Homo sapiens: one gene and its partners. The protein of the gene in region 1 purifies or fractionates together with the protein of each later gene. This does not show direct contact. Each region holds a gene or a part of one and is shown on either strand. Other genes may lie near its edges. The genes, in order: GLMN, TMEM143 and ANKLE2.

Evidence for each region.
Region 2: the proteins of GLMN (region 1) and TMEM143 purify together in Homo sapiens (affinity purification with mass spectrometry; 2 studies listed by BioGRID and IntAct, with this or other methods). This does not show direct contact.
Region 3: the proteins of GLMN (region 1) and ANKLE2 purify together in Homo sapiens (co-immunoprecipitation; 3 studies listed by BioGRID and IntAct, with this or other methods). This does not show direct contact.

What each region holds. Positions count from the first base shown.
Region 1 is NC_000001.11:92,264,395-92,268,047, forward strand, and holds part of GLMN (glomulin), read right to left. Parts: intron 3,609-3,653; coding exon 3,519-3,608; intron 2,348-3,518; coding exon 2,306-2,347; intron 2,200-2,305; coding exon of another isoform or gene 2,146-2,199; intron 2,099-2,145; coding exon 2,025-2,098; intron 245-2,024; coding exon 160-244; intron 1-159.
Region 2 is NC_000019.10:48,357,399-48,361,051, reverse strand, and holds part of TMEM143 (transmembrane protein 143), read left to right. Parts: intron 1-875; coding exon 876-980; intron 981-3,653.
Region 3 is NC_000012.12:132,751,821-132,755,473, reverse strand, and holds part of ANKLE2 (ankyrin repeat and LEM domain-containing protein 2), read left to right. Parts: intron 1-340; coding exon 341-799; intron 800-3,653. UniProt on the Homo sapiens protein: Involved in mitotic nuclear envelope reassembly by promoting dephosphorylation of BAF/BANF1 during mitotic exit.

The DNA of each region.
Region 1 (3,653 bases):
TTAAAACATAGTAGAAATAGGGGAAAAAATATGCCTTAATAATATTTAAGTAATAGTAATACTAGAGATAGAGCAATAACTCACATTAATGTATTCTACATATGAATAAATATACCCTACGAAATAAATTGGTAATTGACACTTTGGCTATGTTCTTACCTTTAATGACATGTCAATTTGATTTTTGATATTTTGAATAATAAAAGCCTCCACACCTGAGTGATTACTTGTATTCAATAAGCACCTTGAAAGCAAAATTACAATAGATGTGAAATTATCCTGGACAGCATTAGAATTAAATGGTGATAAAAGTTTTACAAATTCAAAGAGGCCATGTGTTACTTCTAGGAATAAAAACCCCACAGTAATGGTAATTAGCAAGGTCATCAACCAATTACAAAGTCACCTGTAATAGTTATTGCTCTCACTAAATGGTAAATTCTTATTTATTTTATTTTACTTTTTTAGACAGAGTCTCGCCCTGTCGCCCAGGCTGGAGTGCAGTGGCACAATTTTGGCTCACTGCAACCTCCGCCTCCCGGGTTCAAGCGATTCTCCTGCCTCAGCCTCCTGAGTAGCTGTGATTACAGGCGCCCGCCACCGTGCCTGGCTAATTTTTTGTATTTGTAGTAGAAACAGGGTTTCACCATGTTGGCCAGGCTTGTCTCAAACTCCTGACCTCGTGATCCGCCTGCCTCAGCCTCCCAAAGTGCTGGGATTACAGGCATGAGCCACCACACCCGGCCGGTAAATACTTATTTATAACTGGATCTTCCAACAAGCCATTTCTATCAAACCAAAATTTGAATATTTTTATGAACATAGTTACAATAATTTAACATGGCAAGAAAGGGCACTAACATAATGGTCTAAAAAATCCCCAAATTATTTCCTGTGAAAGTAGTCCAGTGCTAGAGTAGCTTAATTGCAAAAAAAAAAAAAAAACTAGATATGACTAGCTTAAGAAAAAAAGGGGATTTATTGGTAGAGATACACATAGAACAGAACAGGAAAGCCGGTATAATACCTAAGAATTGAGATTTCATAAACTTGCTCTTACTATCAATAGAAAACAAGAAAAGATAGAATCAAGAGTGTTGGCTGGGCATGATGGCTCATGCGTGTCATCTCAACACTTTGGGAGGCTGAGGTGGGTGAATCGCTTGAGCCCAGGAGTTTGAGACCAGCCTGGGCAACATGGCAAAACCCCATCTCCACAAAAAAATTAGCTGGGCATGATGGCATGCACCTGTAGTCCCAGCTACCTGGGAGGCTGAAGCGGGAGGATCACCTGAAGCTGGGGGGCCAAGGGTGAAGGCTGCAGTGAGCCATGATCACACTGCTGCACCCGCCAAAAAAGAACAGTACTAATATTGGCCAATCCCAGGTAAGACATTTTAGCAAATCCAGCCTGATGCCCAATTTTATCAATAAAGTTTTACTGGAACACACCCATCCCCAATACAAAGTCAAAGTTGAGCACTTGCAACAGAGACTGTATAGCCCATAAAACCTATATTTACTATTTGGCTCTTCACAGAAAATTAATTAGAAAGTTTACCAATCTTTAACTTAGAGAGTTGCTAGAATCTTATCCACCTCAAAGAGCAGTATTAGTAAGCTCTTACTATTAACATAGTGCATAGCCTATCAAAGTTGTAATTCCAGAGCCATCAATTTGAACTGTGAGTAATGGAGATTAGTGACATACATAAAGTTCCAGCAGGAGCATCATCAATCTCAGTTTAATTATTTTTAAGTCTATTTCAAATTTAGAGTATTCCAATTGATTGAACTGCAATATATACTATTAGTCATACAAAATATAGACATATATATAGTATGTCTGAAATATTTGATTAACCCTTTCTCTAGCCATCACTGAGAATTTATAATATGGGTTCCAACCAGAGTTGAATTACATGTAAAACATACCGACATACTATGCCCTAAAACAATTACATGGCATTAACATGACTTTTAATCAACCACACACTTAGCAATTAGCCATGCTTGATACATACCTAAATAATGTATATTTGCCTTGTGAATCCAACTTGTTAATATACAGCTGAAGCATAGCTAAACTCTTTTTCCTCTAAAATGGAACAAACAATATTATTATATAAAATGAATAAAGCTTACCCAGACTTCATCACTATCCATTTTATGCATGTAATACATCCACACTTGTACCTCCTAAATAAAAATTTCACAAATTAAAATTTTTAAAAAGAAAATTAAATTATTTGTCAAATTTTCTCACTGTAACTCATTATTCTTTAGTCACCAAATATTTACATACCAGTGTCTCAATGGGGCAAAGTGTCATTACTTTCACTAAGCCCTGGAAATAAAAAAATGTAAAATTCAGATGTAAACAGATTATACTGACTGCAAACAAACAACTATAATACATCAATAGGATACTAAAAATTCAGAGAAGTGAGGGTAGGAGATTTAAAAGTGAAGTAAATTAATTTTTCCCTAAGCCTTCCATTCCAGAAAGCTAACTACAATTGATTTTTTAAGTGATATTGAGTAGAGTGTCACACAGTGTACTTTTAAAAGCAAACGATAATTTTCAATTATGTCTACAGTGGCAAGAAAATGAAATCAAATCTACAGAAATATAATTTATTAATTAAAAACAATCAAACAATATGTTAACAAAAACCATGTTTTTCTATTTAAATATTAGGAAAACCAGTTCCCACACTGAAATCTAAGGATTTCCTTGGATATCATAACTAACAAAGAGGATTGGGCAAAATAAACCATAGGAGGGAAAAACACAATGTGTATTAGTCTTTCTGGTAATGAGTCAGTGGATGCCTTAGATGGAGTCCTGAGAACTTGAGTTATGAGAAACATAAAGAAGCTTCATTTTCCAAGATCCCTACAGAAATAAAGTGTTAAAAGAAGAAAGTTATGCTTTTCTACTGGATGCTGTGCTATCAATAATGGTGGCCTCTAATAGCTATTCGTGTTTAAATAAATTAAAATTTAAATTTGAAACTTAGTTCCGGCTGGGTGTGGTGGCTCACACCTGTAATCCCAGCACTTTGGGGGGCTGAGGCAGGCTGATCACGAAGTCAGGAGATCGAGACCATCCTGGCTAACACAGTGAAACTCCGTCTCTACTATAAATACAAAAATATTAGCTGGGTGTGGTGGCGGGCGCCTGTAGTCCCAGCTACTCGGGAGGCTGAGGCAGGAGAATGGAATGAACCCAGGAGGTGGAGCTTGCAGTGAGCTGAGATAGCACCACTGCACTCCAACCTGGGCGACACAGCAAGACTACACCTCAAAAAAAAAAAAAATAGTTCCTTAGTCACATTTCAAGTGTTCAGTTTGGCTAGTGGCTTTCATATTGTCAAAGTTCTACTGGACAGCATTACACCAGAGTTTTCAAAGGTTGCAGAGAAAAGAGTGGGAAAGGAATCAGAAAAGACCTTACTTTAAGTTCAGAACAGGCAAAGGGCTATTTTCAATATTAGAATACATATTTTATTTACCTGAGGTACAGTAAGAAAACTCTTGATTTCTAAGTACTGGTAAAGTAGACTATTGTCTTCTATTCTCAATAAACTATTCTCCAGCAGCTCCTACAGATTAAAATATATGCAGATACATATATAGTGAAGTCAACA
Region 2 (3,653 bases), on another chromosome or scaffold:
CTTTGGGAGGCTGAGGTGGGAGGATTGCTGGAGCACAGGAGTTCAGACCAGCCTGGGCAATATAGTGAGACTCCACCTTTACAAAAAATTGAAAAAAATTCGCCAGGCATGGTGGTGGGCACCTGTAGTCTTAGCTACTCAGGAGGCTGAGGTGGGAGGATCGCTTCATCCCAGGAGGTTGAAGATGCAGTGAGCTGAGATTGCACAACTGAGCTCCAGCCTGGGTGACAGAACGAGACTCTGTCTCAACATAATAATAATAATAATTCCATCTACTTCTGGAGGATGATATTACACTGTCAAACCGTTCCTGGAATTGTGTGTGTGTGTATTGGCTAGGAAATGTCAAAGCAAAAACTTGAACCTCCAGCTTTTTAAGCCCAGTATAGTTTTTCACTATATTTGGCTGCCTCAGTTTCAGTAAAATTGGTCAGCCCCCACCCAACCAAAACAAAACTTTTTTTTTTTTTTTTTTTGAGACAGAGTCTTGATGTTGTCTAGTCTGGAGGGCAGTGGCACGATCTCGACTCACTGCAGCCTCCGCCTCCCTGGTTCAAGCAATTCTCCAGCTTCAGCCTCCTGAGTAGCTGGGACTACAGGTGCATGCCATCACGCCCGGCTAATTTTTGTATTTTTAGTAGAGACAGGATTTCACCATGTTGGCCACGCTGGTCTTGAACTCCTGACTTCAAGTGATCCACTGCCTCGGCCTCCCAAAGTGCTGGGATTACAGGTGCGAGACACTGCGCCCAGCCCCAGAACAAAACTTCAAAGTCCAGAGCTCTGATTGTGTAGTTAGGCAGCCAGGGAAAGAATTCTTTCCCTCGGGGAAGGGGAAAAGGCCTACAGAGAAGTTTTGCTTCCTGAGGTAACAGGAATTCCACTCGAGTCCGGCAGAGAAGGCGGCTTTGGAGGCGTTCTCGGCCCACGTGGACTTCTGCACCCTGTTCCACTACCACCAAATCCTGGCCCGGCTGCAGGTGAGGACGGGGCCCTTCCAGCCCTGTGGTGCTTGTTCGAGCATCCGCTCATTTAGCAAACATTCCCTGACACCTTCTTGGAGCCTGGCCCTTATTTTAAGTGCTGGGGATTCAATAGTGAACATGACAGGTGAAGTGACGCCCTCATGGAGCCAACATTCCAAGTGGGGAGACAAGGAATCAAATAAATATAAAATATGATGCCTGGTGGTGATAAGTGCCATGAACAATGAGGCGGAGTAGTGAGATAAAGAGGGATGAGATGGGTCGGGCGCGGTGGCTCACGCCTGTAATCCCAGCACTTTGGGAGGCTGAGGCGGGTGGATCACAAGGTCAGGAGATCGAGACCATCCTGGCTAACACGGTGAAACCTCGTCTCTACTAAAAATACAAAAAAATTAGCTGGGCGTGGTGGGGGGCGACTGTAGTTCCAGCTACTCGGGAGGCTGAGGCAGGAGAATGGCATGAACCCGGGAGGCGGAGCTTGCAGTGAGCCAAGATTGCGCCACTGCACTCCAGCCTGGGCGACTGAGGAAACTCTGTCTCAAAAAAAAAAAAAAAACAAAGAGGGGTGAGATGGGGCCTGTTTCAGACGGGGTGGGTGGGGAAGGGCTCCCCAAGGAGGTGACATGTGGGCTAAAGGCTTAGTGAAGAGGGGGAACGAGCCTGATGAATGCCTGGGGGAGGATGTTCTTGGCAGATGGAAGAGCAAGTGCAAAGGCCCTGAGGTGAGTGGAGGCCTGGAGTATTGAACAGTGAGGAGGCCACTGTGGCTGCAGGAGAGTGAATGTGCGGGGAGGGTGGGATATGAGGGCAGAGGGGATGGGGACAGATCGTACTGGGCCTTGTGGGCCACTGTGAGGACCTTGCTTTGTTTTTTTGTTTGTTTGTTTTTGTTTCTCAGATGGAGTTTTTGTTCTGTTGCCCAGGCTGGAGTGCAGTGGTGCGATCTCAGCTCACAGCAAACCTCCGCCTCCCCAGTTCAAGCGATTCTCCTCCCTCAGCCTCCTGAGTAGCTGGGACCACAGGCGTCCACGACCTCCCCCTGCTAATTTTTGTACTTTTTGTAGAGACTGGGTTTCACCATGTTGGCCAGGGTGGTCTTGAATTCCTGACCTCAAGTGATCCACCCGCCTTGGCCTCCCAAAGTGTTGGGATTACAGGCGTGAGCCACTGTGCCAGGCCGAGGACCTTGCTTTGACTCTGAGTGAGCCGGGAGCCATGGGAGGGCTCTGAGCTGAGGAGAGATGTGAGCAGCGGATTTAGGTGTTAACAGGATTTCTCTGGCTGCAGTGTAGGGAACAGACTATCAGAGGCAGGGACATCTATGAAAGAGTCTATTATATTTGTCTAGGGGAGAGATAATGGAAGCTCCGACAAGGGTAATAGCGATGGAAATGGTGAAAAACGGTCAGATGCTGGTTATGTTGGAAGGCATCAGCGTTTTGCTGATGTGCTGGCTGTGGGGGTGTTCTGGGGAGGAAGAGAGAGGAGTAGGGGTGCGTCTCCAGCAGTTCTGGCCTGAGCCTCCTGGAGGATGGAGCTGCCATTTACTGGGATGGGGGAGACCGTGGTGGGATGGGGAGAAAGATCTGCAGGGAGGACTGAGAGCTCAGTTTTGGACTTAAGAATTTGAGCTACCATTTATTTATGAATTTATTTATTCTAATATATTTTTTTTTTTTTCTGAGACAGAGTCTCACTCTGCTGCCCAGGCTAGAGTGCAATGGTGCGATCTTGGCTCACTGCAACCTCTGTCTTCCGGGTTGAAGTGATTCTTGTGCCTCAGTCCCCCGAATAGCCAGGATTACAGGCGTGTGTCAGTACGCCTGGCTAATTTTTGTATTTTTAGTAGAGATGGGGTTTCACCATGTTGCTCAGGCTGGTCTTAAACTCCCGACCTCGTGATCTACCTGCCTTGGCCTCCCAAAGTGTTGGGATTACAGACGTGAGCCACCGTGCCTGGCCCATTCTTTTTTAATTAAAACATTTTTTATTTCAGTAGTTTTTGGGGTACATGTGCTTTTTGGTTACATGGATGAATTCTGTAGTGGTGCATTCTGAGATTTTGGTGTGCCCATCACTAGAGCAGTGTACACTATACCCAATATGTAGTCCCTCACCCCCATCCCAACCCCCCTCCCTGAGTCCCCAAATTCCATTATATCACTCTGTGTATCTTCGCACCCTCATAGCTTACTTAGCTTCCACTTATAAAGTGAGAATACGGCTATTTGGTTTTCCATTCCTGAGTTACTTGACTTAGAATAATGGCCTTCCAACTCCATCCAATTACTGCAAGAGACATTATTTTGTTCCTTTTTATGGCTGAGTAGTATTCCATGGTGTATATAGACCATATTTTCTTTATCCATTGAGCTGCCTTTTAGAAAGGCAGGTAGAAAGATGGACTTGAGGCCGGGCGTGGTGGCTCATGCCTGTAATCCCAGCACTTTGGGAGGACAAGGCAGGCGGAGCATGAGGTCAGGAGATCGAGACCATCCTGTCTAACACGGTGAAACCCTGTCTCTACTAAAAATACAAAAAAAAATTAGCCGGGCGTGGTGGCGGGCGCCTGTAGTCCCAGCTACTCGGGAGGCTGAGGCAGGAGAATGACGTGAACCCGGGAGGCGGAGCTTGCAGTGAGCCAAGATTGCGCCACCGCACTCCAGC
Region 3 (3,653 bases), on another chromosome or scaffold:
TCCTGGGTTCAAGCGATTCTCCAGCCTCAGCCTCCCAAGTAGCTGGGATTACAGGCATCCGCCACCACACCCGGCTAATTTTTTGTATTTTCAGTAGAGACGTGGTTTCACCATGTTGGCCGGGCTGGTCTCGAACTCCTGACCTCAGATGATCCGCCCGCCTCAGCCTCCCAAAATGCTGGGATTACAGGCGTGAGCCACCGCGTCCAGCCAAGAAAAAAAGTTTTTAATGAAAGAAACAGAAACTGATGCCATTATATAATGAACCCTAGTACCCATCACCCAGCTTCAGCAGGTGTTAGTATTTTGTGACTCTTTGATTTTTTTGTCTTGGGCCTAGGTGAAATGACAATGGATGCTCTGTTGGCTCGATTGAAACTTCTGAATCCAGATGACCTTAGAGAAGAAATCGTCAAAGCCGGATTGAAATGTGGACCCATTACATCAACTACAAGGTTCATTTTTGAGAAAAAATTGGCTCAGGCTTTACTGGAGCAAGGAGGAAGGCTGTCTTCTTTCTACCACCATGAGGCAGGTGTCACAGCTCTCAGCCAGGACCCACAAAGGATTTTGAAGCCAGCTGAAGGGAACCCAACTGATCAGGCTGGTTTTTCTGAAGACAGAGATTTTGGTTACAGTGTGGGCCTGAATCCTCCAGAGGAGGAAGCTGTGACATCCAAGACCTGCTCGGTGCCCCCTAGTGACACCGACACCTACAGAGCTGGAGCGACTGCGTCTAAGGAGCCGCCCCTGTACTATGGGGTGTGTCCAGTGTATGAGGACGTCCCAGCGAGAAATGGTAATGGGACCGTGTGTAGGATTTCCTCACACAGATAGCACATACGCGGAGGGGCGGGATGACGTCTGAAAATGGAAAACTACAGATTAAGAAGGAAAAAATCCAATCCCCTCCATCTCATCACCCCAGTTAACCATTGTTAACATTTTTATGTAGAACTTTTCTGAAATATTTGTGAATTTAACATGAGAACTGTTAAAATTTGTGAGGTAAATTGGATTCTATGAGATATGCTGGACTGAGATATTAATATTAACTGGCTGCTGCTGTTGGTTAGGAACTTTGTTGATTAGTCATCTCCGCCTTTTTAAAATGCAGTGTAACCTGCACATCTTTTATGTTAATGAATGCAAATGGCCAATGAGTGTATAAATACTTTTCAGCATCAAAGATTTGTGGTTTTATTTTGTTTTTATTTATTTATTTATTTTTTGAGACAAAGTCTCACTCTGTTGCCCAGGCCAGAGTGCAGTGGCGTGATCTCAGCTCACTGCAACCTCTCCCCTCCCAGTTTAAGCGATTCTCCTGCCTCAGCCTCCTGAGTAGCTGGGATTACAGGCGCCTGCCACCGCGCCTGGCTAATTTTTTGTATTTTTAGTAGAGACGGGGTTTCACCATCTTGGCCAGGCTGGTCTTGAACTCCTGACCTCATGATCCACCTGCCTTGGCCTCCCAAAGTGCTGAGATTACAGGCTTGAGCCACCGCGCCTGGCCATTTTATTTTTTTAATTTATTCATTCATCTGAAACAGGGTGTTACTCTGCCACCTAGGCTGCATTGCAGTGGTGCAGTCACAGCTCACTGCAGCCTCAACCTTTCTGGCTCAGGTGATCCTCCCACCTCAGCCGCTTGAGTAGCTGGGACCACAGGCATACGCCACCACGCACAGCTAATTTTTATGGTTTTTTTTTGTTTTGTTTTGTTTTGTTTTTTTGAGACAGAGTCTCGCACTGTCACCTGGGCTGGAGTGCAGTGGTGCGATCTCAGCTCACTGTAACCTCAGCCTCCTGAGTAGCTGGGAACTACAGGCGCCCGCCACCATACCCAGCTAATTTTTTATTTTTTGTATTTTTAGTAGAGACAAGGTTTCGCGATTTTGGCCAAGCTGGTCTCGAACCCCTGACGTCGTGATCTGCCCACCTCGGCCTCCCAAAGTTCTGGGATTACAGGTGTGAGCCATCACGCCCAGCCAATTTTTGTATTTTTTATAGAGGCGGGGTTTCGCCACGTTGCCCACGCTTCTCTCGAACTGCCCTCAAGCGATCCACCCACCTTGGTCTCCCAAAGTGCTAAGATTACAGGCACACACCAGCACGCCTAGCTAATTGGTTGTTTTTGGTGGTTTTTTTTTTTGAGACTGGGGTCTCTCTCTCACCCAGGTTGGGGTGTAGTGATGCAATCTCAACAACTCACTGCAATGTCTGCCTACCAGGCTCAAGGAGTCCTCCCACCTCAGCCTCCGGAGTAGCTTGGGATCGCTGGGATCACGGGCACGTGCCAGTACGCGCCAGTTTTTTTGTATTCTTGGTAGAGACAATGTTTCCCCATGTTGCCCAGGCTGGTCTCCCAACTCCTGGGCTCAAGTGATCTGCCAGGCTCAGCCTCCCGAAGTGCTGGGATTACAGGCGTGAGCCACCTCGCCTGGCCACACCTAGGTAATTAAATTTTTTTTTTTTTTTTTAAGAGACTGGGTCTCGCTTTATTGCTTAGTCTGGTCTTGAACTCCTGGCTTCAAGCAGTCCTCCCACCTGAGCCTCCCAAAGTGCTGAGATTACAGGTGTGAGCCACTGTGCCCAGCCCAAGAATTGTAATTTTAAAGAAGATTTAGCATTGGAAAAAAGAAATGAGAACTCAGTATTAATTGGGATGCCAGAAATTGCACACTGTTATGAGTATTGTTATTACTGTGATACCATTTGTGGTGACGCCTATGAGTACATAATTGGTTAAACACTATGAATAGAATGGAATATTGTTCTGTAAGATCTTTTTAAAGAATACGTAGGGGCCGGGCGCGGTGGCTCACGCCTGTAATCCCAGCACTTTGGGAGGCCGAGGCAGGCAGATCACGAGGTCAGGAGATCGAGACCATCCTGGCTAACACGGTGAAGCCCCGTCTTTACTAAAAATACAGAAAATTAGCGGGGTGTGGTGGTGGGCACCTGTAGTCCCAGCTACTTAGGAGGCTGAGGTTGCAGTGAGCTGAGATTGTGCCACTGCATTCCAGCCTGAGCGACAGAGCTAGATTCCATCTCAAAAAAAAGAAAGTAACACTGGGAAATGATCATGGTGCAGTTTTTATTTTTATTATTTATTTATTTATTTACTTATTATTTGAGACAGAGTCCCGGTCTGTCGCCAGGCCGGAGTGCAGTGGTGCGATCTTGGCTCACTCCAACCTCTGCCTTTTGGGTTCCAGTGATTTTCCTGCTGCAGCCTCCCGAGTAGCTAGTACTACAGGGGTGTGCCACCACGCCCGGCTAATTTTATATTTTTAGTAGAGACAGGGTTTCTCCACGTTGGTCAGGCTGGTCTCAAACTCTCAACGTCAGGTGATCCACCTGCCTCAGCCTCCCAAAGTGCTGGGATTACAGGCGTGAGCCACCGTGCCCGAACTATGGCTATTTTTATCCAGTAGTGGACAGTAACCATTCGTCTGTTACATTGTTCATAAATTTTTGTCTCCTGGCCAGTAGTGTATATCTTATGTATTTACGATAGTCTCATACAAAACTTAATTGTGATAGTTCCACTACAGAGCTTTAATATTTTTATATAATCAGGATTATCTTGTTTTGAATGGTTTCTTGGCATGTTTAAAAAGGCATTCCCAGCCGGGTACAGTGGCTCATGC